Regions from separate parts of the Homo sapiens genome. Here regions 2, 3, 4 and 5 are each linked to region 1. Evidence: fine-mapped expression QTL. A gene starts in region 1. Each other region holds a variant in brackets. All regions are shown on one strand. Distances are between the middles of the regions.

Region 1 (5,106 bases):
TAACAGTAAGCTACAAAGTAACTGCTTGTCAAATAAAACTTTTTCTGTATAGAGAACATTTTGAAAACATGTTCTGGAAATGCTATTATTCTGCTGCCAAAAATCTAGGTACTACCTTTTAAAAAAAGAAAAGGAAAACCTCTGCATCTGCACACTGAAAAAAAACTTAGAATTTTTCTTGATTGACGTTCTTCCAAAAGGAGAGTTCTGATGAAATCTGAACCTACTTATTAAAAATATAAATATGCAATAGCTTCTACTAGTTTACAAAGACAACTAGCATTAGAGATAATGGAAATTTACCACCTGAATTCAACAAAAAACTTTGGCCCAGATTGAAAAACACTGTATCATGGCCAGGCGCAGTGGCTCATTGCCTGTAATCCCAGCACTTTGGGAGGCCGAGGTGGGCGGATCACCTGAGGTCAGGAGTTCCAGACCAGCATGGCCAACATGGTGAAACCCCATCTCTACTAAAAATACAAAAACTAGCCAAGCGTGGTGGTGGGTTCCTGTAATCCCAGCTACTAGGGAGGCTGAGGCACGAGAATCACTTGAATCCGGGAGGCGGGAGGTTGCAGTAAGCTGAGACCATGCCATTGCACTCCAGACTGGGCAACAAGAACGAAACTCCGTCTCCAAAAAAAAAAAAAAAAAAGTATCATTACTATTATTTTTTGAGACAGGGTCTCACTCTGTCACCCAGGTTGGAGTGCAGTGGCACGATCACAGCTCACTGCAGCCTCCACCCATGGGCTCAGGTGATCCTCCCCACTGAGCCTCCCCAGTAGCTGGGACTACGGGAGAGGGCAACTACGACCGGCTTTTTGTAAAAAAAAAAAAAAAAAAAAAAAAAAGTATCACTATAAAGAGCATGCAACAGTAAGTTTTTAACAATTACTACCGTCACTAAAGCCAATTTGGAACAGAGACCTAGGCCTTAAGTAGCTGTAAAAGTGTCAAGACTTTCAAATATAAAGAAGCATATTCAAACACACTTCTTTTACTAAAAATAAACTTCGAAATTTATTTTAAAACCCACTTACAGGATGAGATTGACAACGTATCTCAGGCTGAAGAGGGAGGCAGGTGGAAGAGTGGTTCTTTACAAGAGAAGGGATGTGCAAGTACTCTTTGAAATAACAACCTTAGAAGGAGAAAGATAATTGCAAGGATCCAAAGGAAGTGCACACAGGGCAAAAGGAACATACAGAGATCCTTAACGAGACCTTCTTTCCAATGTCAAAGAACACAAGGCAGCGAGGGGCACTGGGAACAAAAGGGAAAAAACTGTGTGAGATGCAATTACCAAGGGAGGCAGGCACCCGACCCCGCAGAGCAGCAAATGGAAGTGACTCAGGAGGGGAATAAGCCAAATTCATGTTATTGAAAAGCTCATTCTAGCTGCCAGATGGAAACTGACTGTGGACGGAAGGAGCAAGAGTTAGGAGGCCTCTTGCAAATACGCACTTTATGAAGCTTTACGAAGTGTTCAACATGTTTATTATTAGGAAAAGATCAATTTTAGTATTCAATCACTTACAATCCGCAGCGCTAGTCAACAATTAACATTCGTTAAATAAGTTTTAAGACTGTTCTACAACTTTGCCACTGTAACTAAGTTCAACCGATGAGATGTCAAAATGATTCATTCAATCTTATACTATGGTTATATGAGACACCAGTTAATGAGCAAAAGCAGCTAAGACGAAGCTCCACTTAACAGGTACAGAGACAGGGATGCTGGTGAGTGCTTTTTAAATTTTTTCTTTTTTTAAAAACAGGCATGAAGTGACATACCTAGCGTATATGGTGAGATTTTAAAAACATAAAGCCTTGCAAACTACCCATAACGGCTACATGGAGTGACAACAGCAACCGTGAACACAGAATTAAGTTTAAAGCAAAACTCCCTCTTAGAACCTGTTAACCCACTGTAGACAGAACTGGTCTTGACGATTTCCTCCCTCCCAGAGAGTGATTCGGCCCTGAGGGGGCTCCAAGACACCCACCCGAGGATAAAGCCAGGGAGCTGGGCACCGAGGAAGAGGCTGGGGTCCAAGGGCGCACAGCTGCACCTTCTGCGGGACACCTGAGAAGAAAGGGGTGCCGAGGGCGCTTTGGGGACGGGGCAGCTGGCGCCAACAGCCAGGCGCGGGTCGACTCCTCACCTCGGGACTGGGACGCGGCGGCTCCTCCCCGCCCTCCGGCCGCGGCGACTCCAGCAGCGCGAGAGCCACGGCCTCGCCGGCAGGCTCTTTACTCTGTGGATCCTCCATGCCGGCTGTCACGCCAGAGGAGAGTTGCTGGAGCCGGACACTTGCTAACTCTCACTCTGCAGAGCCCGAAAGCCTCGCCTTTCTCCGTTGAAAAATTACCGGGCTCGCGTTCCCGCGGCGGCGGCCACACAAACTCCAGCGGCCACCTCCCACTTCCGGGAGCGTGTGGCGTCCACACGCCGGGCAGGCGCAGTGAGCCGGCGTGCGCGGAACGCCAGCGCCGCAGTCCACAGGGGGAGGGAGGACGAACAAGAGGGAGGCGCGCCGGTGAGAAGACGGGGCGTGGCCGGCCGTAGGCGGAGCTAGCGCGGGTTGAAGTTGCGCAAGGATCTAGTCCAGTCACTGGAGGGTAGCACCGGCACGTGTGTTCCCGTCAGTGTTTCCTGAGAAGGAAAAAAGTAGGGTGAGTGGGAAGATATCATAGAGAAAGATGTTTTCGACCATAAAAAATAATAAAACAATTCACATTTTCCATAAGGAGTTTCCTAAAACTTCCACTCTGGGCAAGAAAAGAAAATGGGTCGGGACTTAGTGTCCCACTATAAACAATTAGAAAACGGAACAAAATATAGGAGACACCTATTCAGACATTGGACAACGGACAGCTGTGGACTGTTTTACCTGAGAGAAAAGAAATAAAAGGAGCCGTATATCATCCTGCCCTTTTGCCCAGAGGCGATTTCCAGTCTGTGGTGCGATGAAAGGAAATCATATGGAAACCTAGGATCTCCTGGGTTGAAAAGACAGAGATTGGAGTTGACGAAATTGGGGTAGGCCAAGTCGGTTGGAATTTGTAGGGCAGAATTCTGGAGAGGAGGGAATTACATGGAAAAAGAGCTTCAGAAATCTGCTTAGGAGTACCTTGAATCTTTAACTGAATAAAAAACGTGAAACTCCACAAGGCCAGGAAAGAACAATTACTGGGGAGCAGTACACCAAACAATGGTGAGAGGTCACACAGAACTGGGAATCATTTGAGCTCCCAGCAACCAGAGTGAAGAGATTATTGAATACCATGGAACACGCAATAGAAACCTCAGATGTGAAACTGCCATTGCAAAATTATCATTGAGACAGTGAAAGAGATCAGACCTAACCAACTCCATCTTGCTTTTAACCTCCAGGCTATCCTTATTCATTCCTAGGCGTAGGCCAAACTAACACTGGGAGGAACTTAGTGTATAGCTTATAGTTTAAAACAAAGGTGATAGCCCTTTCTCAAAATAAACCCTCTTCTTGAGACTAGACTGCTTTTGTAGGACTAGTAAATTAGCCGAAAGATTAGAAATTATGATTTAGGACTCATGCAGCTGAAGGCTACAAGATTCTAACCCTCTCCAAATTGCTCCTGGGGATAATATCACTATTGTAAAATCTAAGATCAGTGCTTGAGATATTTTGCAGGCCCTGCACTTGATGGATCAGCTGGCACCTCCCAGATTGATAAACTGACTCACCTGATCTTGGATAAACTAGCTCATCTGATTTTGTGTCCCCCACGGGAGGAACTGACTCAGTGCAAGAGGACAGCATCGACTCCCTATGATTTCATCTCCTACCCAACCAGTCACCACTCCCATCTCACTGGCTTCTCACCCACCCAATTATCCTTAAAAACTCTGATCCCCAAATGCTCAGGGAGACTGATTTGATTAATAAAACTCAGGTCTCCTGCACTGCCAGCTCTGCATGAATTGCTCTTTATTGCAATTCCCCTGTCTTGATAAATCGACTCTGTCTAGGCAGTAGGCAAGATGAACCTTTTGGGTGGTTACGAAAGTGTCATGCCTTAGTGAGATATAATAACCGTAGACTGCAGGACCCAGAACATAAACTACTGTAGATTCTTCAAAAGCCTTAAAACAAGCCCTGAAAGGATCAAACTGCTCTGTAAGTAACCTAATTACCTGTAAGAACAAATTCTAAAACTCTCTGAAAGACTACAGTAAAATCCAGGATTCAACAACATTAAATTCAAAATGTGAGACATCCAGTCAAAAATTGAAAGACACGCAGCACTTGGGGATGCTGAGGCGGGAGGATTGCTTGAGCCCAGGAGTTTGAGGCTGCAGTGACCTATGATTGCACCACCACAACCCAGCCTGGGTGACAGGGTAAGACTCTGTCTCAAAAGAGAGAGAGAGAGACCAAGTGGTAAGAAAATATCTCACGAAGTTCATAGAAACAAACCCCAAAATGATAAAAATGATGGAATTAACAGACAAGGATTTTAAACACCTGTTATGAATATGCTCAAAGATTTAAAGGAAGACATGATAGGAGAGAAACTGGAAAGATTTTTGAAAAATCAAATTTCTGGATGGAGGTGAAAAATATTTGAAATAAAAATTTCTTTGGATGGGATTGCTAGCGCATTAAGCAATGCAGAGAAAAAGGTAAATAAATTCAAAGATATAGCAACAGAAACAATACAAAATGACACACACACACACAGAAAAAAGATGAATACAGCTTCAGTAACCACTTAAAGAGGCTTAATACTTCAGGACCACTTGAAGAGGCTTAATACTATTGACCTAAAAGGTAGAAGCTGAGGCAAAATTAATATAACTAGAGAGTTTATTTGGTCCAAGTTTGAGGATTGCAACCCAGGAGCATAGAATTGAAGTTGTGCTGAATCCATCTACTCAGAAGATATGCCAGTTTGGAAGTTAAGTGAACACTTAGTAACCAATCATAATTGTCTTAAGTCTTGCCCATTCTAGATTATTTGCTTTGTTAAATAGGCAATTGAGATAGGGCATAATTCCAATAACAATAATCTTTGATGGGGTTAAGTAGCCCTTTCTAACCATACATACCTCCA
Region 2 (5,106 bases), 31 kb after region 1:
TGAAGAAGGGGAAAATGGATGTGGGGTGACAACAAGCAGCCTGCCATGCTCCATGGTAGTCAGAGACAACATGGTGGGCTGTTGTGCTCAGCTGGTGCTAACTCAATAGAGTGACCGTGTCATCAGCCTTTTTATCTGATCCCCCAATTGCTCCATATGGTTAGTTGGTACATACTCAAAGGCTCTCAGGTGAGAGACATTTGTCAAGATCACCTCTAAAACTAGAGAGTGAAAGAGTTGCCATGATACCCTCTTAAAATCCCAGGTATCCACATACTTCTGAGAAATGTTGCCCTCAACCAAACAGAAAGGCACGAGACCCTGGAGACAATATGTCCTAGCACTGACCCCTAGGGGACACACCACGTTCTTCTCTCCACCTGTTCTGCAGCCCAGCTCTCCCCTCACTGCACCGTTTAGGGGCAGGAACGCGGATCTGTAGGGGTCAGAGGCCAGGGCATTTGTTTCCACTGTCACGGGGGTGAGGTCTCTGTGTTTGTGATTCAGACATTTGGGGGATTTGCTTTCTCTTCCATAACGCTGGCCCAAAACTGCATCTGTTTGGGGGTTGCTGCATCCCAGGAAGCAGGGTGGTGGAGAAACCACGGATAGGTGGGTGGTGGCGAAACCACGGATAGGTGGTTGGTGGCAGATGGGGGAGTACTGGCAAGTTCCCAAGTGCAGAGGTAGCGATGCCTGCATCAGCAACCACTATCTCGTGCCAGCATCAGCCATGGTGAGCATTGTGGTCTTGTGTCCAATGCCCACTGCACTGGTGTCCTCACTGACTGACTTCTGCTCCTGCCTGCCACCAAAGCTTTGACTTTAAGCCTGCTTCTCCCATCTGCTCAGCACGAGCCGGAGCTCCTGAATAGCCTTCTGCTAAATTTCTTCCTTCCAAAGTTATTGGAGTTGGATTCTGTTGCTCACAAATAAGATTCCTGACAGATAACAGTTTGAGGGGATTAGAGACACTCCAATCTAGCTCTCAGGAGGAAGCGTATTCCTTCTTTTTCCTTGGATTTGTCTTATTACATTGAGCTGTTCACGAGGCTGTGGCTTGCGCTGGGCTTAGAGGAAAGGGAGTCTAAGACGCCGTTCATCCCACTTTTACTGGTGCAGCTCCTTGAGCCTATCTCTATCCAGGCGAAATGAATCCTTCACATCATTTACCCCAGCTCACAACTCTCTGGAGGCTTAGAGCGAAAGCCTAATCATAGCAATGACAGCCAGCTTTGTCTGCTCTCATTCTCCCTCGCACCACCCCCCTCCCCACGTTTGGAAAGGATTTAAGTGATTAGGAGCCTGGCTCTCCCAGACGCTTCTTTCCATCTGAGCTCCACAGATCACTTTATCACCTTTCACCAAACTGGTAGACTGTGCGTTATACAAGAAGACAATCTGAGTCCATTTTGTGGAGCGCTTGGGGCCAGAAAGTGCTGGCTACACAAGTCTGGAATTAGTATTTATAGAGCATAAATCAACAGAAATTATAGACATGGAATATTCTGAGAGAAAATAAATAAAAGCTAGTATGGGCTTTTGTGGAGGAGGATTAACAAGACGCGGTTCAAGGCTGGGAATGCCAGAAAAAGACTGGGGACAGATCCAGTTATGAACATGGAAATCCATGAAACTGCCTCCCCCAATCTATGTTCAAAGGAAAAGCTCTCAGCAAATATAAAATGATTTTTAAAAAATTTTTTGCTTTGAATTTCAGAATTTGCACTTATTTATGGAGGCAAATATGTTGTATATAAACTTCTAATCCAATGTTTTTATTCTCTAAAATGACAATGAGGATGATGACGAAACACCAGTCATTTACTGGGCACTTTGTTTGTTTGTTTTTGAGAAGGAGTATTGCTCTGTCGCCCAGGCCGGAGTGCAGTGGCATAATCTTGGCTCACTGCAACCTCTACCTCCCGAGTTCAAGCAATTCTCCTGCCTCAGTCTCCCAAGTAGCTGGGACTACAGGTGTGCACAGCCACGCATGGCTAATTTTTGTATTTTTAGTAGAGATGGGATTTCACCATGTTGGCAAGGACGATCTTGATCTCCTGACCTTGTGATCCACCCGCCTTGGCCTCCCAAAGTACTGAGATTACAGGCATGAGCCATAGTGCCCAGCCTAATTTTTGTATTTTTAGTAGAGGCGGGGTTTTGCCATGTTGGTCAGGCCGGTCTTGAACTCTTGACCTTGGTGATCCGCCCACCTCGGCCTCCCAAAATGCTGGGATTACAGGCATGAACCACCGTGCCCAGCCAACTGTTTTTTTTTTTTTTTTGGGGGGGATGCAGTCTCTCTCTGTCTCCCAGGCTGGAATGCAGTGGCACGATCATGGCTCACTGCAGCCTCAACCTCCTGGGCTCAAACGAACCTACTGCCTCAGCTTCCCAAAGCGCTGGGACCACATGCATGAGCCACTATGCCTTGGGCCTGTCTGTTGGGCACTGTCAAGCACCATGCTAAGTGATTTACACATACTAGCTCATTTAATCTTCACACCTGTATATGGCTGGTGCTATAGTTTCCCTCCTTTTAAAGATGACACTGAGTCTTAGATAAGATAGCCAGCTCAACATCATATAACTAGTTAATATCTCAGGACTTAGCCTCCTTTTTTCCCAGCACTTATATGTATTTAATTACTTTCTGGAAGCGCCCAGTGGGAAAATGTTCACTCTTCTTTTGTTTCCAGCTGCCAGATTGGTATTCTCCACCCCAAATGCACATTAGAATCACCTTATCAGCCTTTAAAAATT[T/A]TTGATGCCAGGGTCATGCACTCGGTCAATTAAGTCAGAATACCATGCGTGTATTTCACTGTAGAGCAAGTTAAGCTAACTACTGGATTAGGATGGAAAAAGAAAATGAAACGGCCATTGCATTGAAACTACAATGGTAAATTCCTGGTTAGGAGAGTGGGGATTAGAGCCACTAGGGGATAAGGACTACAGAATCTGCTTTTAGCTCCAATAAGCAAGAGGTTAAGTGGAGGAAGCAATGCATTAAACAAACGCGGAGTCGCTTCTCTTTTTCATAATGTGTCTCACAAGCACTGAATTTGAAGGGAGAAAACAATGAAAATTTAGGGGTAATTCTCAAAAATAATCTCCCTGGGGACAGATAGTACACAAAAGCAAGGACATAAGACTAATAAAACCATTGCTAACATTTATCAAGAAAAAAAGAACACCATAGGAATGGGCCCTGGCATTCATATTTTATAAAGTCTTCCCGAGAGATTCTGTCGTGCAGCCAAGGTTGAGAATGATTGCCTCATCTCCTTCCTCGCAATCCAGTTTTCCTACCCTGCACATCTCCACTTTGCTATTTGGTATATGGCATACAGCATCTGCCTATGAGTTATGGGATTGCCAGACAAGCAAACGGCATGCAGCCCTGCAGAAGGGATACTGTCCTCAAGCTAGCTTGCAACGGTTTCTACAGGCGGGCAGCTGTTCGAAGTTGAAGAGATGGGATACTGGATCCCATCCCACCCATTTCATTCAGCTCATCCCTGGACATGTATTTCCTGCAGTGTTATTCCCCGTGGCTGAGCTTCTAAGAGCTCCTGCACCTGCACTTGGGGCCAGCTCAGTTATAAAATGCCTAGAAAACTTTTGGAGACTTTGCTCTTTTTCTCTGTGAATAAACTCATCATTTCAATGCCAAGCTTCTCATTGGGATTAGTTTACCAGCTTTAGACTTTTTTGTTTCTTTTTTCTTTTTTTTTTTTAGACGGAGTTTCATTCTTGTCACCCAGGCTGGAGTGAAATGGTGTGATCTCAGCTCACTGCAACCTCCACCTCTCGGGTTCAAGCAATTCTCAGACTTCCAAGTAGTTGGGATTACAGGCACCTGTCACCATGACAGGCTAATTTTTGTATTTTTAGTAGAGACGCGTTTTCACCATGTTGGCCAGGCTGGTCTTGAACTCCTGACCTCAGGTGATCCAACTACTTTGGCCTCCCACAATGCTGGGATTACAGGTGTGAGCCACTATGCCTGGCTCGGCTTTTGACTTTTAAGTGAGTCTGGTTTTTCAGCAACTTCACCTTCCTTCTTGGACTCAAATCTCAAGTCAGTGAATAAAATTCATAATGTTCCTGTTGGAGAAAGAGTTATATCTTTTTCTTTTTCTTTTTTTTTGCTAGGCAGGGTCTTGCTTTGTCACCCAGGCTTGAGTGCAGTGGCGTGATCATGGCTCAAAGCAGCCTCGCTCTTTAGCTCAATCAGTCTTCCTGAGGTAGAACAATAGGCCCTGGAAGGAAAACCCTAACTTTCCACACCTAAGTGACAAGGACCAGAGGCTACTCCCTTTGCAAACCCGTCTTTTCTGCTCGGGCAGATGGGAAATTGAAAGTACCTCTGATTGCAACCAATCAGACGTTTGCATAGGAGTGTAACTTTGAAACTTTACTTTAGCCTCTGACTGTTAGCTTTCCAAGACCAATCTCTGATTGCCAGCCAAGTCTTGGTTTGCATAGAAGAGCAACTTTGTAACTTCGCTTTACCCTCTGATTGTTAGCTTTGCGAGACCAATCAGATGTGTGCATAGGAGTGTGACCTTTGTAACTTCACTTCAGCCTCTGATCGGTTACTGTCCGTAACCAATCACACTGATTGTGAGCCACCGCTCCATTTACATGAGGTGAACACCAAGTGGCCAATGGGAAACCTCTAGGGGGTATTTGAACCCAAGAAGATTCTGCATCTGGGCCCTTGAGCTGCTGCTCCAACTGCTCCCACACTGCGAAGTGTACTTTTACTTTCAATAAATCTCTGCTTTCTTTGTTTCATTCTTTCCTTGCTTTGCTGTGCATTTTGTCCAATTCTTTGTTCAAAAATGCCATTAACCTGGACAACTTGCAGGCAAGACCCTCTATGAATAAGTACAGCTCAGCCTCCTGGGAGTACAGTCACATGCCCTATGCCCAGCTAATTTACAAAATTTTTGGTAGAGACTGGGTGTTGTTATGTTGCTCAGGCTGCTCTTGAACTCCTGGGCTCAATCAAGCAATCCTCCCATCTCAGCATACCAAAGTGTTGAGATTACAAGCATGAGCCACCACACCCAACCAAGTTCCATCTTTTAGAACAGT
Region 3 (5,106 bases), 48 kb before region 1:
GACTGCTTCAGGTTCATTAACAGACTACGGTGACTCATAGAACTCAACAAAGCACTGTATTGATGATTCACATACAGTTTCCCATAAAGGATACGACTCAAGAACAGCCAAATGGAAGAGACGTGTAGGACGAGGTATGGGGCTAGTGGCTGGGCTGTGGAGCTTCCATTCCCTCTCTGGGCATGCCATCCTCCCAGCACATCATGAGCTTATCAACCCAGAAGCTCCTGGAAGCTTGTTGCTCAAGAGTTTTTATTGAGGTGTCATGACTTAGGCATGATCAGCTAAATCATTAGCCACTGGCTGGGCGCGGTGGCTCTTGCCTATAATCCCAGCAATTTGAGAGGCCAAGGCAGGCGGACCACTTGAGGTCAGGAGTTCGAGACCAGTGGGGCCAACATGGCAAAACCCCATCTCTACTAAAAATATGAAAATTAGCCAGGTGTGGTAGTGCATGCCTGTGGTCCCAGCTATTCTGGAGGCTGAGGCAGGAGAATCTCTTGAACCCGGGAGGCAGAGGTTGCAGTCTGCTGAGATTGCGCCATTGCACTCCAGCCTGGGTGACAGAGCAAGACTCCGTCTCAAACAAAAACAAAAACAAAAACAAAAATAAATAAATCATTAGCCACTAGTGATTGAACTCAATCTCCAGTTCCCCTCTTCTCTCCAGAGGTTGAGGGGTGGAGCCAAAAGTTCCAACCCTCTAATCATAAGCTTGGTCTTTGTAGTGTGGCCAGCCTCTCTCCTGAAACTATTTAAGGGCCCACCTTGATTCACCTCAATAGCATAAACTTAGTTATGATCAGAAAGGATTCATGTATAACAACAGACATTCGAACCACTCGGAAATTTCCAAGGGTCTTTGATGCTCAGTGCCAGGAGTCAGGGATAAAGACCAAACATATTTTTTATTATACCATAGTTCTGAAATGTGTTTTCTGGGTAAATCTCTTGATTGCAGTTTCCCTAAATGTATCCTGAAGTTAACATATTTAACCTCCTTGCCAACTGTGCCCCAGTTCTGTGTGCAAAAGATGTCCCTTCATACGTGTGCACCTAGCATGTTCCTTGATTCGTTCACGGGTAATAGTGGTATATGCTGCTTACCCAGAATGCTGCTGGTGTCAGTGACGGTACCTTGCCAGAATCCCAGAGACTCAGTGCTCTAGGCGAGTTCAACCAATCAGCACCAGAATAGGAGGTGACTGTTCTCAAACTAGTGGAGTTTGTCCAGTTCTTTTGGTAGCAAGAGACGCCTGACTCAATTTTGCTTAAAGGGGATTTATTGGAAAAAAAAAAAGTATATCTAGTCCTTTCCATGGACACGGAAGAATGGAAGAAAGCAGAGAAATAGAACACAGAGAGAGACAAAAACACTGCCAGGAAGTGTACTAGGAGCAGTAGCTGAAACTCACAGAAAACGTCCCATAGAGGATAAGCCCCAAGTTTCAGCCTTGGGCAGACCCGTGTAATAAGAGCTAACACAAATAGGGTCAGTACAATAACGGCTAACATTTACTGAAGGGTTATTATTCACTAAACACTATTTTAAGCACTTTATAAACATTAATTCTTTCATTTCTCACTACGACCCTATGAGATCTGGGCTGGCATGCCCCCGTTTAACAGAGCAAGGTCACTTATTTTGTGGCATGGCATCTGAGCCTGGGCTCTCAATCCTTACACCATACTCACTCTCTAAGGATGGCTACAAAACGACTCTGCAGCTACAGTCTGAAGTTTAAGCAATTATAGTCCAAATGACTGAAAATTCTCATAAGTGAGTGCATTCGCCTGAGAAAAGGAAGTGATCATTCAAACTCATAATCAAGGAAAATGTATAACTACATAGGACACTTACAAAGATCTAAACATACAAACTCAGAAAAACTAAAGAAGTGGTTCTAGGCAGGACCAAGAGGAAGGCGTTTCCCTTAGTCGTGCTTCTTTTTTTTTTTTT[G/TG]AGACAGGGTCTCAGCGCTGTCACCCAGCCTGGAGTGCAGTGGTACAGTCTCGGCTCACTGCAACATCTGCCTCCTGGGTTCAAGTGATCCTTCCACCTTAGCCTCCCAAGTAGCTGGAACTACAGGTGCATGCTACCATGCCCTGCTTATTTTTGTATTTTTAGTAGAGATGTGCTTTCACCATGTTGGCCAGGCTGTTCTCGAACTCCTGACCTCAAGGGATCTGCTTGCCTCAGCCTTCCAAAATGCTGAGATTACAGGCATGAGCCACCACGCCCAGCCCTTAGTCATGCTTCTTAAAAACACCTCCAATTTGAGCATGTTAGCAGTTTCAGCCCCCTCACCATGTGATGCTGTGAGCCACCTCAGGACTCCACAGAGTCCCCACCAGCAACAAGGCCCTCACCAGATGCAGTCCCTCAACCGTGGACTTCTCAGCCACCATACTGTAAGAAATAAACTCCTTTTCATATATATATATATTCATATATACATACATATATATATTCATATATACCTCCAATTCCCTATGGGAAAGTAATATAATTAATACCAGAACTAATATCTATCGTACCTACTTTAAATAATAATTTGTTACTTTCAGCTAATTCTTTCTGCTATCATTTTAAAGTCCAGAATAAAGAATCTACCTCCAAAGATCATTAAGTTCAGGATCAGAACCAGATGAACCAGCCCAGACAAAGAAATGAGCCCACTGAAAGAACAACGCCTTAACAAAGCTCATTTCCATCCAAAGGTGCTGCCCTGAGTCACTTTTGCACCTTATTATCTCTTTGGTCCCCACAGCAGAAGAGCAATAGGAATGATGCTGTTATTTTTATTGCATAAAGAAGGAAGAGGCCCGGAGTTGTGGTGGGATAGACCTAAGTTCCCACAGCTAACAAGTCCTGAAGCTGAGACCGGAATCCAGGCTTCTCCATTCCTTCCGTAACTCTGACTCATTTTAGGGACAATTTCCCAGATTTTATATTAATACGCATCAAAGCTCACTGGCTTGGCCTACACTCTGGTGACTTATCAGTCAGCAGTGAAACGTTCCCAATGAGGACTCAGACAGGAATAGACCTAGAAAATCTCTTTTTCTGTTCTAGCTTCAAGAACAGACCTAGAATTTTTTTTTTTTTTTTTGAGATGGAGTTTCACTCTTGTTGCCCAGGCTGGAGTGTAATGGCACCGTCTCAGCTCACTGCAACATCGACTTCCTAGGTTCAAGTGATTCTCCTGCCTCAACCTCCCAAGTAGCTGGAATTACAGGCATGTGCCACCACGCTCAGCTAATTTTGTATTTTTAGTAGAGATGGGGTTTCACCATGTTGGCCAGGGTGGTCTCGAACTCCTGACCTCAAGTGATCCACCAGCCCCTGCCTCCCAAAGTGCTAGAATTATAGGTGTGAGGCACTGCGCCCAGCCTTGACCTAGAAAATCTAATAGTAAGGCGAAAATAGCTATCTTTTTTTTTTTTTTTGACCACTTAGAATGTACCAGGCACTCTGTAAAGTGCTTTATATATATTCTACCTCACTTATCCTTAAAACATCACTGTGAGGGGTATAGTATTAGTTCTATCTTACAGACCAGGGAGCCGAAGGTTAAACAGGTTAATTTACCAAGGTAACAGTGGGTAATCCTGTATGATGGGGAGGACGTGTTCAGGTCTAGAACTCATCCTAGCCAAATGAATCAACAGAGGGAGGAACTCTGCAGGCTGCCCTTGGCATGGGCTGATGGTCATGCACTCAAATTGCCTTCTCTGGGCATTGCTGTCCACTGTCCCTCTCTCCTCACCTGCGGCCTCTGAATGACTAGGTTATCTCTCCGTTGATGTCTTCTCTTTGATGCAGAAATCCCATCCGGCCTTTGGGAGGGCTAGTATTCTTTTTTGCGGGGGTTGTGGGAGGCACAGGAGGATGCCTAGTATTCTGATACTTTTCAAAGGGCATGCTTCTGAGATGTCTCCTCCCTCAATGCAGAAGGATCAGCAAGTCAAAAGTTGTTTAACTCCTTTAAGTATTTCCTAAAGGAAGTATTTATTGGGACTCACTGTTAGGCACACAATTTAAGAAAAATAATATTTTCATGCTTTTTTTTTTAAAGTCAAAATTAATGCCAAAAAATCCACAAAATTCAAATAAAGACAAGATCCAAAGGTCTAGTTGCAGGACTCCCCGCACTCCCTTCACCCCAACCTCAGCAACCCTGTCAGATGCTATCCATATTTCAATACTTGACATTTTTTTTTCACCATTAATTTTTTTGCATTAATGTTGCTCTTTTTTTTTTTTTTTTTTTTTTTTTTTTTGGAGACGGAGTCTCACTCTGTCGCCCAGGCTGGAGTACAGTGGCGTGCTCTCGGCTCACTGCAAGCTCTGCCTCCTCAGTTCAAGCGATTCTCCTGCCTCAGTCTCCTGAGTAGCTGGGATTACAGGCTCCCGCCACCACGCCGGGCAAATTTTTGTATTTTTAGTAGAGACGGGGTTTCACCATGTTGGCCAAGCTTGAGAACTCCTGACCTCAGGTGATCCGCCCACCTCGACCTCCCAAAGTGCTGGAATTACAGGTGTAAGCCACTGCGCCCAGCTGCCCTTTGTAAAGATGGCATTCAAACATTATTTATGTGGACGGCTGCATTTACATCTCGCTCACCTCCACCTATCTTGATCCTGGACTGGGTGCATAAAGAACAGAATGCTGGCCGAGCGCGGTGGCTCACGCCTGTAATCCCAGCACTTTGGGAGGCTGAGGGGAGAGGATTTTTTGAGCCCAGGAGTTCAAGACCAGCCTGGGCAACATAGCAAGACCCCATCTCCACTAAAAATAAAAATAATAATAATTAGCCAGGGGCACGTACCTGTGGTCCCAGCTACTCAGGAAGCTGAGGTGGGAGGATCACCTGAGCTAGGGAGATTGAGGCTGCAGTCAACTATGATTGCACCACTGCACTCCAGCCTAGACAACGGAGCAAGATCCTGTCTCAAAACAAAGGACAGAATTATGACAATGGGCTTTGATTTCCACTGGACCTTTTCCCCATGTCCTTCCCTGCCTCCTTCACACATCAGCTGTTATCTGCTGGCCCCACCAGAAGAGTGACCACAGTTTATAGCTGGGCAACGCCTCACTCCAC
Region 4 (5,106 bases), 23 kb after region 1:
AGGTTAGGAGTTCCAGACTAGTCTGGCCAATATGGCAAAACCACATCTCTACTAAAAATACAAAAGTTAGCCAGGCATGGTGGTGCGTGCCTGTAGTCTCAGCTACTCAGGAGGCTGAGGCAGAAGGATTGATTGAGCCTGGGAGGTGGAGGTTGCAGTTAGCGGAGATCGTGCCACTGCATTCCAGCCTGGGTGACAGAGTGAAACTGTCTTGAAAAATAAAGTAAAATAAAATAAGCCTTTTTCTGTAAAAAGTCAGCCCTGGAGGAATGGTTCCAAGCGTGTGGACAGCACCACTCAGTTTCCCTACTATACCTGTGGAAGGAAATGATAGTTGCTGTATTTCTAAATAGGTTGACTATTAACATTGCTGCATTCTCCTTCCCAAGAAACACCATGGCCTGATACACTCACTGCGGCCCCATGTGGGGCAAAATTGCTGCCATCCATATCTTTTTTTTTTTTTTTTTTGAGACAGTATCTCACTCTGTCACCCAGGCTGGAGTGCAGTGGTGCAATCACAGCTCACCGCAGCCTCAATTTCCTGGGCTCAAGCGATCCTCCTACCTCAGGCTCTGGAGTAGCTGGGCATGAGCCACCACATCTGGCTGGTTTTTGCTTTGTTCTATTTTTGTTTGTTTTGTAGAGACGGGGGTCTCTCTATGTTGCTCAGGCTGGTCTCGAACTCCTGGCCTTAAACAATCCACCTGCCTCGACCTCACTAAGTGCTGGGATTACAAGCGTGAGCTATTGTGCCCAGCCTTGCCACCCATATCTTTGCTTCCTGTGGCTGAGTTTCAAAGCATCATGAACCTGAAATAAGAGGTCACAAGTTCACTGCTCGGCTTAAGCTGAATGGCAGCTAATCCATTCCAAATAGATGAAAATCTCTTCTACTCTGAAAGTAAGCTAGAAAAGATATCCCACAATATCGAATTCATTAAAGCTCTCTGTGAAAGAAGGATAATGGGTGATCCTTTTGTTTTGGTTCCACTTGCTTATTTCAAACTACCCACATGTTGTGTTTTCTGTTCACAATAGTTAACAATGGCTAACATTTATTGAGCACTGTTCTAAGTGCTCTTCACATATAAAAGATGTAAAAATGAGGCTCCTTCTTTCCCAGTTTGGCTGAGGCATGAGGATAATAGATACTAAATACCAAAGTGAGTTTTCACACAGACCACCCCAGAGGGCTTATAAAGTAGGATTTAGTCAAAAACTAGTTACACAATTTTGGACTACTTCCACTAAGTCAAATACAGTCCTGGCCCGGACACAGTGGCTCACGCCTGTAATCCCAGCACTTCGGGAGGCTGAGGGAGGCAGATCACCTGAGGTCAGGAGTTCAAGACCAGCCTGGCCAACATGGTGAAACCCTTTCTCTACTAAAAATACAAAAATCAGTCAGGCGTAGCGCATGCCTGTAATCCCAGCTACTCAGGAGGATGAGGCAGGAGAATTGCTTGAACCTGGGCGGCGGAGGCTGCAGTGAGCCAAGATCATGCCACTGCACTCCAGCCTGAGCAAAGGAGCGAGACTCCATCTCAAACAAACAAAAACAAAAAAGAAATACAGTCCTGCAGTGAATAATGACTTTTCAGTCAATGACACACTGCACATACGTTGATGGTCCCAAGAGATTATAATATTGTAGCTTTAGTATACCTTTTTTAATATTCAGATATACTTAGATATACAAATACTAATAGTATGGAAATTGCTCACAGTTTTCAGTGCAATCGCATGCTGTGCACGTTCATAGCCTGAGAGCAATAGGCTGTCCCACATGGCCTAGGTGTGTTGTAGGCTAGATCATCTATGTTTGTGTGCGTGCCCTCTATGATGTTCGCACAATGATGAGATCATGTAACAATGCATTTCTCAGAAGTATCCCTGTCATTAAGTGATACATGGCTATATATTAAAAAGTTGAAACTGAGGGAAAAAAATTGAAGAAACTGTGTCTAGAAAGAGGTGCTGTATGGGTCCTTTATCACATGCAGCAATGGGGACTGGTAGGGATGCCTCCTCTTCATGTCAGGTCAAGAGAGACTTTACTAGGACCGAGTAGAGCTTGGTTTGTGTCCCCTGGGAGGTGGAAGCACAGTAGACTACAGTCTGACTTGCATCCAGAGAATCTAGAGGTCAAGAGAGAAGGGCAGTCTGGAAAAGACATTAACAGGGTGAAGGAGAGTTCCTTCTGCACTGAGGTCAGCTTGCACTCCCAAAGTATGTCAGGACAAAAAATTCAAGTGTGGACCATGAGGGAGAGGAGGATGGCTTGGAGCTTGTTTAAACTCTGGTCAAGGGACGCCTGGAAGAACAGGGGTCTTCAACAGAGATTCTGTGCACGGTGGATAGCTACACACACACATGCATGCACGCACGCACACGCACACACACACACACACACACACACACCCACACACACACACACACGGCTGAGAGAAAAGCAACCAGGAGCAAATACATTGCCCTCAACATGGGAAGCACAGTTGAAAGTCACGGTGAAATCTGAAGCACCAGGAAGAAAAGGTCACCTTTAACCATTTGCCAAACCCAGAAAGTGAGAACATAGCCTACAAGAGTGTCACTTAAGGTGAAGGTTTCTGGCCACACCCTAACCTTTTCTGTCCTAACCCAACCTAACCCACTTCAATTGATGAGAAACTATGGTTATCAAATTGGGACTGCAGGGGTAAGGTGACCGTCTAGAAGAGAATCATACCCCCTAAACCTGGCTCCGTAGCAAAAGACCCCAGCTAGGGGGAACTTTCCCTAAAACTGGAAGCTTTTATTATTACATGGGATGTGACATTCTAAATCTAGAAATGAGAGTGTGTTTTGCAACTTAATGTGGTTGTAGAACTTTTTATTACCTAAGGATGGTCAGAAGCATTAGAGAACCACCTGATTTCACATTTAGG[G/A]GCAGGAAAAGAGTTTCTCCTGCTGAAGAAATTTTAAATAAACAATGAGAAACAAAATAAAGGTGGTTTCTTATCATGGCCCATGAATATTGCTTATACAACCTTTTGGTCATGTATGAGTTATTGTATTTAATCCCCACAGAAACCCAGTGAGGTAGGTCCATTGTTATCTTCATTTCACAGATGAGGAAATAAAACACAGAGAACTTCAGCAACTTGCCTAAGGCCACACAGACAATAAATGGTAAAGCTGGGATTTGACTACAAGGCTTAAATGCATCATAATACAGTAAGAATATTTTAAAATATATTTCCTGTCTTTGTTCTAGGTTCCAGAGAATCTCCTCCCTACTCGATACTTGTTTTGTGATGCAAACGCCCCTATTTGCATGATCATAATAGTGTGAAATTAGGTGATTCTTTATTAACCTTAAAGCAACCAATCAACCATTAGCAGTGGATGCTCACAACAGCTCTGAGTGATACAGAGAACAGATACAATTATTATTATTCCCCTTATACAGAAAAGGGGGATTTCCCCTTTCAGGAAAACTGAACGCAGAGAGAGAATTAATTCAGGGGATGTTGACAAAGGTGTGGGGTATGCTAGAAGAGCAAAAGAGAGAAGAGGGGTGTTACCCAGAGGGTAGAAGCTGCAGCAGTCCCCGGGCTGGAGCTGCTGAATGTCTGGAGACGTCCCCACTGCTGGGGAGCGGAAGCCAATCCTGTGTCTCCGCTGGAGCCTCAGATGCTTCTCGGGCCCCCTGTTGTATACAGTCACTGGTACCGCTGCCGCTGGAGCCAGAAGTAGGATGGCTTCTCCCTGTCTCGCACCTGCTCATCTTCCCCTGGAGTTAGGGAACATAGGCAATGACACAAAGGAAGGCAGAGAAGGGTGGGAGTTTGGCAGAGAACCAGCAGACACTGTGGCTTGGAGGCAAATGGAGATTTGTTGATAACTAGAGTTAGGGGCAGTCAGGACTAGAAGCCAGGCGTGAAGTTCAGGAGGCCCCAAGGCCACTTTCACTTCAGATACTAACTGCAAGTTCAGGGATCCTCAAGACCACCCACAGATTTGACAATCTGTTGGAAGGACTCACAGAACTCACTGAAAGCTGTTATACTCACAGTTGTGGCTTATCACAGTGAAAGAATGCAAATTTAAATCAGCTGAGGGGGCGGGGCGTGGTGGCTCACACCTGTAATCCCAGCACTTTGGGAGGCCAAGGCAGGCAGATCACCTGAGGTCAGGAGTTCGAGACCAGCCTGGCCAAAATGGTGAAACTTCATCTCTACAAAAACACAAAAAAATTAGCCAGGTGTGCTGGTGGTGGCACATGCTTGTAATTCTAGCTACTTGGGAGGCTGAGGCAGGAGAATTGCTTGAACCTGGGAGGCAGAGGTTACAGTGAGCTGAGATTGCGCCACTGCACTCCAGCCTGGGCGACAAGAGTGAAACTCTGTCTCTAAATAAATAAATAAACTGAGGGAAGAGGCATATGGGGAAGAGTCCAGGAGAGCTCCACGTGCAAAGCTTCCAGTTGTTCTTTCCCAGTGGAGAACTAACTCAGCAGTGATGTGTGAGGATATGCATGAATTGCCACCCAGAGAAGCTCACCTGAGCCTCAATGTCCACAGTTTTTACTGGGGTTCTGTCACATCGACATGGTCAGTTTCCAGCCCTTCCGGAGGCTGAGCTGGAGCTGTGTGGCCCAAAGCCTGCATTATCGATTACATTGTTAGCATAGGTTATGGAGCTTGTTCCAAAGTCCTCAGGTAAACATTCTTATCAAGCAGGATATTCCAGTGGTTTAGAGATTATCTTCCAGGAGCTGAGGGCAAAGGCCAGACCCCTGTATGGGCAAAGTTAATCCTCTCCTGCATATGAGGTCTTCCCCCTCTCAACTTGGTGGTACTTTCAATGCTCTCAAGCTCCTTATTTGATCCTCAAAGCCGCATTATAGCATAGCCAAGGGATGCAAAAAGACAACTAAAAAAAATTCTATCAACTTTGCAGGGCATACAATATTAAGTAATTTCAAGTATAAAGTGTATTTTCAATTAGCATATGAGTTCACTTTTATATAATGTGTAGTAATATTTAAAATATATAGAAACATTTAGTTTTTTTCCCACTTAACAATTGATACATACTATTCATTTAAATCAGGTTGGG
Region 5 (5,106 bases), 190 kb before region 1:
AAAATAAAGCCTAAGTGGTCTCTAACATTCTATAACTGAGAACTGACTCCTTCCTGAGTCTCCCAGGGATCCATGGGACCTATAACATAGGCACACCCATCATCAATGCACGTGTTTAGGTGGCTTTGACTACTTTGGAGTCATCCTGCAGGCTTTTATCTGCTGCCATTTTTCTAAAGCTTCCATCTGATTTACAAAGGCTCTTAAACTAGAATTTGGGAAGGAGTCACTTAGAGAAAACATTTGCTTTACTTTCTTCTTCTCAATTTGCTGAGGAAGCATTTCTTAAAACTCTATGGGGAGAAAAATTTGCTCCTCAAAAGCCAGCTGGAACTGAAGAAAACGTTGTCTAAGAAAGTATTGATTGTCAGCAGAAGAGAGAGTTATGTGAGGGCAAGTTTAGTTTTTTATGATACAATTGATTTATTATTTTATTTTTATTTAGAGACAGGGTCTCACTCTGTCACCTAGGCTGGAGTGCAGTAGTATGATCATAGCTCACTATAACCTCAAACTCCTGAGCTCAAGCAATCTTCCCACCTCAGCCTCCCAAGTAGCTGGGACTTCAGGCATGCACCACCATGCCTAGCTAATTTTTGGTTTTAGAGATGGGGTCTCACTACGTTGCCCAGGCCAGTCTCAAACTCTTGGCCTGAAGGGATCCTCCTACCTTGGCCTCCCAAAGTGCTGGGATTATAGGTGTGAGCCACCATGCCAAGATGCCAAGCCTAATATATATATATTTATTTTTATTTTTTTTTTTTAACAAAATCTCACTTCTTCGCCTAGGCTGGAGGGCAAAGGCACGATCTCAGCCCACTGCAACCTCTGCCTCTTGGGTTCAAGCACTTCTCCTGCCTCAGCCTCCCCAGTAGCTGTGATTACAGTCATGTACCACCATGCCTGGCTAAGTTTTGTGTCTTTGGTAGAGATGAGGTTTCACTCTGTTGGCCCGGCTGGTCTCGAACTCCTGACCTCAAGTGATCCACCCACCTCAGCTTCCCAAAGTGCTGGGATTACAGGCGTGAGCCACCGCGCCCAGCCCTTATGATATAATTTTAACCTCATTTTAGAAGTCGGGACTTAATGAGGACTGAAATCAGGACTTTGGGGCAGCTTGTATAATTACAGCTCCTATAATCCTTGTCAACATGATGGAACTACAAGACCCTCCTGATCTTTGAGTCTGTCACTATGAGCCACTTCCTGAAAGGAAGCTCCAGCTTCTACCTCCACTGGGAAGGCTCAAGTCATCTTTGGCCCCGAGGAGAAGCTAGGGATGCCAGTGTTCAGGCCCCCACAGCAGAGGCGGGCCTGTGTCAATATTGCAGGGAGAACCTGCTCTCTATCGCCAGACCTCCACAGTAAGGACAGGCACTCTCGGTGCTGATGAATTTGGAAATAGGAAAATTGGCACAATCTTAGAATGGGATCTTCATTTAATAAATGAGGACTTGGAACCCAGAGAGGTAAAGTGAATTCTACAAGATAAAATCATGGTAGAAAAATCGTGGCACAGCATATAGATTCTAAGCAGAGAGAAACTAAAGGTCATGTTTTAGGGTGCAACAAAGACATGTTAAGTCCTTCTGTCCAGTGCAATCTATGTTTCAGGAAACCCCCAGCCTGAAAGTTGTTCTCTGCAGGAGGGGTTATGGAGAAAAGACCACAGATTGCCCCTTTTGCTACTGCAGTACCCACAGACAGGAGACAAAAGGAGACGCCCGTGTAAAAGGAAATGCGGCTGGCATATTGCAGCAAGAACAGAAAGAAGTTCTAGCCATTGTACACATCTGAAAAGAACCCAGTGAGGGAGAGCAGCCCCTGGAATAACTGAAATAGAAATTAATGAAACCAGGACATTAAAATCTAAGCTTGATGTGACTGTGCTCAGATCTAGAGACGTTTCTGCACTTAGTAGAAAAACTCCAATATGTCGATAAAAGCATCCAGACTCTACCCTGCAGGGAACAGAGGAGAGGCGCGGCAGTGAGACACAGCCATGGCAACAGAGAGGAAGGTCCTGACCGGACATCTCAGAGATATCGCCTTCAGCCATTGCCAGCTAAGGCTTCATCAGGGATTCCCAACACCTGGAGCTATCACCTGCACAACAGTGAACCCCAGCGAACTGTGGGGGGGGCACCAGTTATAGAAACCGTATTGGCTGAGGGGTTTAGCAAACTGTACAAACTGTACAGTAACACATCCCACACCAAGGCTTCTGTCTCTGCAAATGAATCCCTTTAGAGAGTCCCACATTCCTGAAGAGTTGTTGGAGGTAGGCGTTAAATTTGCCAAGCTACCAATATAAATTTTATCAGCTCACAAGACTGGGGCCGCATAGAGGTCCCCATGGAGTCACACACTATGCAGAGACCTACCTGGAGACAGGCTGTTCCAGCCTGGGTGTGCAGCACATGACACACACTGCTCCACGGCTCTAAGAGTCAGGGAAACTGGGAAGGCAGATGTTTATATCCAGAAAAAGCATGAATTGTGGAGTTAGGCAGAACTGGGTCAGAATCCTGGGCCCTACCACTGA[T/C]TGACCCTGGCTAAGTAAATTAAGTTGGTGTCTTAGTCACTTAGGCTGCCATAACAAAACACCAGGTATTAATACTAGCTTGAACAACAGGAATTTATTTCTCACAGTTCTGGAGGCTAGAAGTCCAAGATCAAGGTACCAGCAGGGTGTCTAGTGAGGACTCTCTCCTTGGGTTTGCAGATGGCTGCCTTCTTGGTGTGTGCTCACTTGGCCTTTTCTCAGTGTGTAAAGGTGGAAAGAGAAAGAAGAAGCTAGCTCTCTGGTGTCTCTTCTTTGGGCACTCATCTGATCATATCCATCCAGCCCTCATGCCTCATCTAAACTTCATTACTTCCCAAAAGCCCCATCTGCAAATACCATCACATTGGAGGGAGGATAGGGTTTCAACATATTAATGAGGGGAAGACACAATTCAGTCCATAGCAGTTGGCCTGTGAGTCAAGTGACTTTCTCCTTCCCAATCTGTGAAATAAAGACAGCACTGTTAAAAGAATTAAATAACCTACTCTACTGAAAAAGGCAGAAAGCTGTTAGCATAGTGCCTGGTTACATGGTAGGTACTCATATTCATTTTCTGACAGCTATCTAGACCATAAACCTGTGGACACTTCCCCCGATTTTTAAAATATTGCGATAAAATCTGCATAACATAAAATGTACCACGTTAGGCATTTTTAAGTGTACAATTTGGCAGTGTTAAATGTATTCACGATGTTGTACAACCAATCTCTAGAATTCTTCTCATCTTGCAAAATTGAAATTCTTACCCATGAACAACTTACCCATGAAAGAACTCCTCATTTCTCCCTTCCCTAAAATTTTTAATTAAAAGGAACAAATTAAAAAAATCAAGAACTTTAATTGCTACTCTAACTAGCTGCTAAGAATCTTCTTTATTTATTTATTTTTTTGAGACGGAGTCTCTCTCTGTCGCCCAGGCTGGAGGGCAGTGGCGAGATCTCGGCTTACTGCAAGCTCCACCTCCCAGGTTCACGCCTTCTCCTGCCTCAGCCTCCGGAGCACCTCGGACTACAGGCGCCTGCCACCACACCCGGCTAATTTTTTTGTATTTTTAGTAGAGACGGGGTTTCACTGTGTTAGCCAGGATGGTCTCGATCTCCTGACCTCATGATCCACCCGCCTCGGCCTCCGAAAGTGCTGGGATATAGGTGTGAGCCACCAAGCCCGGCAGAATCAGATTTTTCTAACAAACTAAATTCCAGATTTTTTAAAAAAGTAGATATCGTCCCGTCTCCACTAAAAAATACAGAAAAATTAGCCGGGCGTGGTGGCGGGAGCCTCTGGTCCCAGCTACTTTGGAGGCTGAGGCAGGAGAATGGCGTGAACCCAGGAGGTGGAGCTTGCAGTGAGCCGAGACTGCGCCACTGCACTCCAGCCTGGGCGACAGAGTGAGACTCCGTCTCAAAAAAATAAATAAATAAATAATATTTTTAAAAAGTAGATATTGTAGTTGCTTCACAATGAGAAATTCAAACTAAATTCCAGATTTTTTTTTTAAAGTAGATATCTTAACCGTTCCACAATGAGAAGTTCATGCAGGAACAAGCAATGAATTAAAACTGTCAATACAGAATGATTGATTTGGTAAAACTCTATCTTTAAAAGATTATGAGGGTTCAAAATTACCATATTATATTCAAACTCTGTCAAATGGAAGCCTACAGAGTCATTACAAAGGTTGTTTGCACGTCCAGCAAATACTTAGCAGGTCTATGTGAATGAGGCAGGAAAGAGAACAGGAAAGTTGTAAGGCAGGGTTTTCCAGACTTTCCTGATAATGATCACCCGAGATACTTGTTAAAACTACAAATTCCTGGGCCCCATCCCAGACCCACTGAATCAAAATCTCCAGATTGGATTTCAGATGTAATGTTCTAAAACAACAGTCTTCTAGAGGGTAAGAAATCTGTATCCAAGAAAAAGAGCTGCCCAATAATGCTGATGACGATATAAAGCAAGTACTTGAGGATGGTAGCTCCAATCTGTCAGGTTCTGAAAGGTGAACTTAAAGGTTTGTTCCAAGCACAGAGGCACATTTAGCCACAAATGAGGCACACTGCTAGGGGACACTGCTAGGGACACTTGGAACAAAATCAGGGATAGGGCACTATGGGATGTGGTAGACAGGAACTAAGAGCACAAGTCATGAACTAAGGGCACAAGAAATGAACTAAGAACACAGGGGGAGGTGGAAAGGCTTACACACGGCCATGTGTTCCTTTCAAAACATGATATGACTTGGAATCAGTTTATAATATCTTTGTATTTGTTTTTTGACAGTGATAATATCAGCAATTTAAGAAGTCAAGATGGAAACTGAAAACAAAAGCTAAGTAGCATGTCTTAGAGACCTGCCTGTGTTACCTGGGGCCTCTGGTGCAGGGAGCAGCCCCTATCGCAAGCAACTAGGCGGATAAAAAAAAGGAAGATCTCCAGGGTCCAGGGGATGCAGTGGGGACAGAGCATGGAGATGGAGAGAGAAACCAGGTCACAAGAGGAAGTTAGCTTTGGGTCTGAGTTGGGAGACCCAGATGTTTTGT

Alleles and levels. Positions count from the first base shown, and alleles are read on the strand shown. Sizes are in standard deviations (SD) of each study's normalised expression. Not every link is listed here.
As copies of TG replace G in region 3, the expression in monocytes after triphosphate RNA of the gene that starts at base 2,446 in region 1 goes up (large effect, 1.0 SD a copy in Kim-Hellmuth 2017).

Evidence for each region. PIP is the estimated chance that this variant, and not a neighbour inherited with it, causes the effect.
Region 2: its variant is fine-mapped to the expression of ERI1 in whole blood (TOPMed, PIP above 0.99).
Region 3: its variant is fine-mapped to the expression of ERI1 in monocytes after triphosphate RNA (Kim-Hellmuth 2017, PIP 0.95).
Region 4: its variant is fine-mapped to the expression of ERI1 in blood mononuclear cells (TOPMed, PIP 0.91).
Region 5: its variant is fine-mapped to the expression of ERI1 in hypothalamus (GTEx, PIP 0.98).

Annotation. Positions count from the first base shown.
Region 1 is chr8:9,000,237-9,005,342 of GRCh38, reverse strand. ERI1 (exoribonuclease 1) reads right to left here and starts at 2,446. Exons shown (of 7, transcript NM_153332.4): 1 at 2,172-2,446. The coding sequence starts at 2,279. LOC105379227 (a long non-coding RNA gene) reads left to right here and starts at 2,601. Exons shown (of 3, transcript XR_002956680.2): 1 at 2,601-2,682.
Region 2 is chr8:8,969,525-8,974,630 of GRCh38, reverse strand. The region is part of intron 2 of LOC124901866; the gene reads right to left. Among named protein-coding and RNA genes, the nearest start is that of ERI1, 31 kb to the left of the region's middle. The variant T/A (reference allele first, on the strand shown) is at 2,767.
Region 3 is chr8:9,048,512-9,053,617 of GRCh38, reverse strand. It overlaps MIR4660 (microRNA 4660), which reads right to left; the gene lies at 5,100-5,106. It also overlaps a transcript of ERI1 not described here. Among named protein-coding and RNA genes, the nearest start is that of MIR4660, 2.6 kb to the right of the region's middle. The variant G/TG (reference allele first, on the strand shown) is at 1,961.
Region 4 is chr8:8,977,669-8,982,774 of GRCh38, reverse strand. LOC124901866 reads right to left here. Exons shown (of 4, transcript XM_047422504.1): 3 at 3,570-3,778. Among named protein-coding and RNA genes, the nearest start is that of ERI1, 23 kb to the left of the region's middle. RefSeq lists an enhancer at 4,582-4,876. The variant G/A (reference allele first, on the strand shown) is at 2,931.
Region 5 is chr8:9,191,311-9,196,416 of GRCh38, reverse strand. All of the region lies in intron 2 of LOC101929128 (a long non-coding RNA gene), which reads right to left. Among named protein-coding and RNA genes, the nearest start is that of PPP1R3B-DT, 42 kb to the right of the region's middle. The variant T/C (reference allele first, on the strand shown) is at 2,546.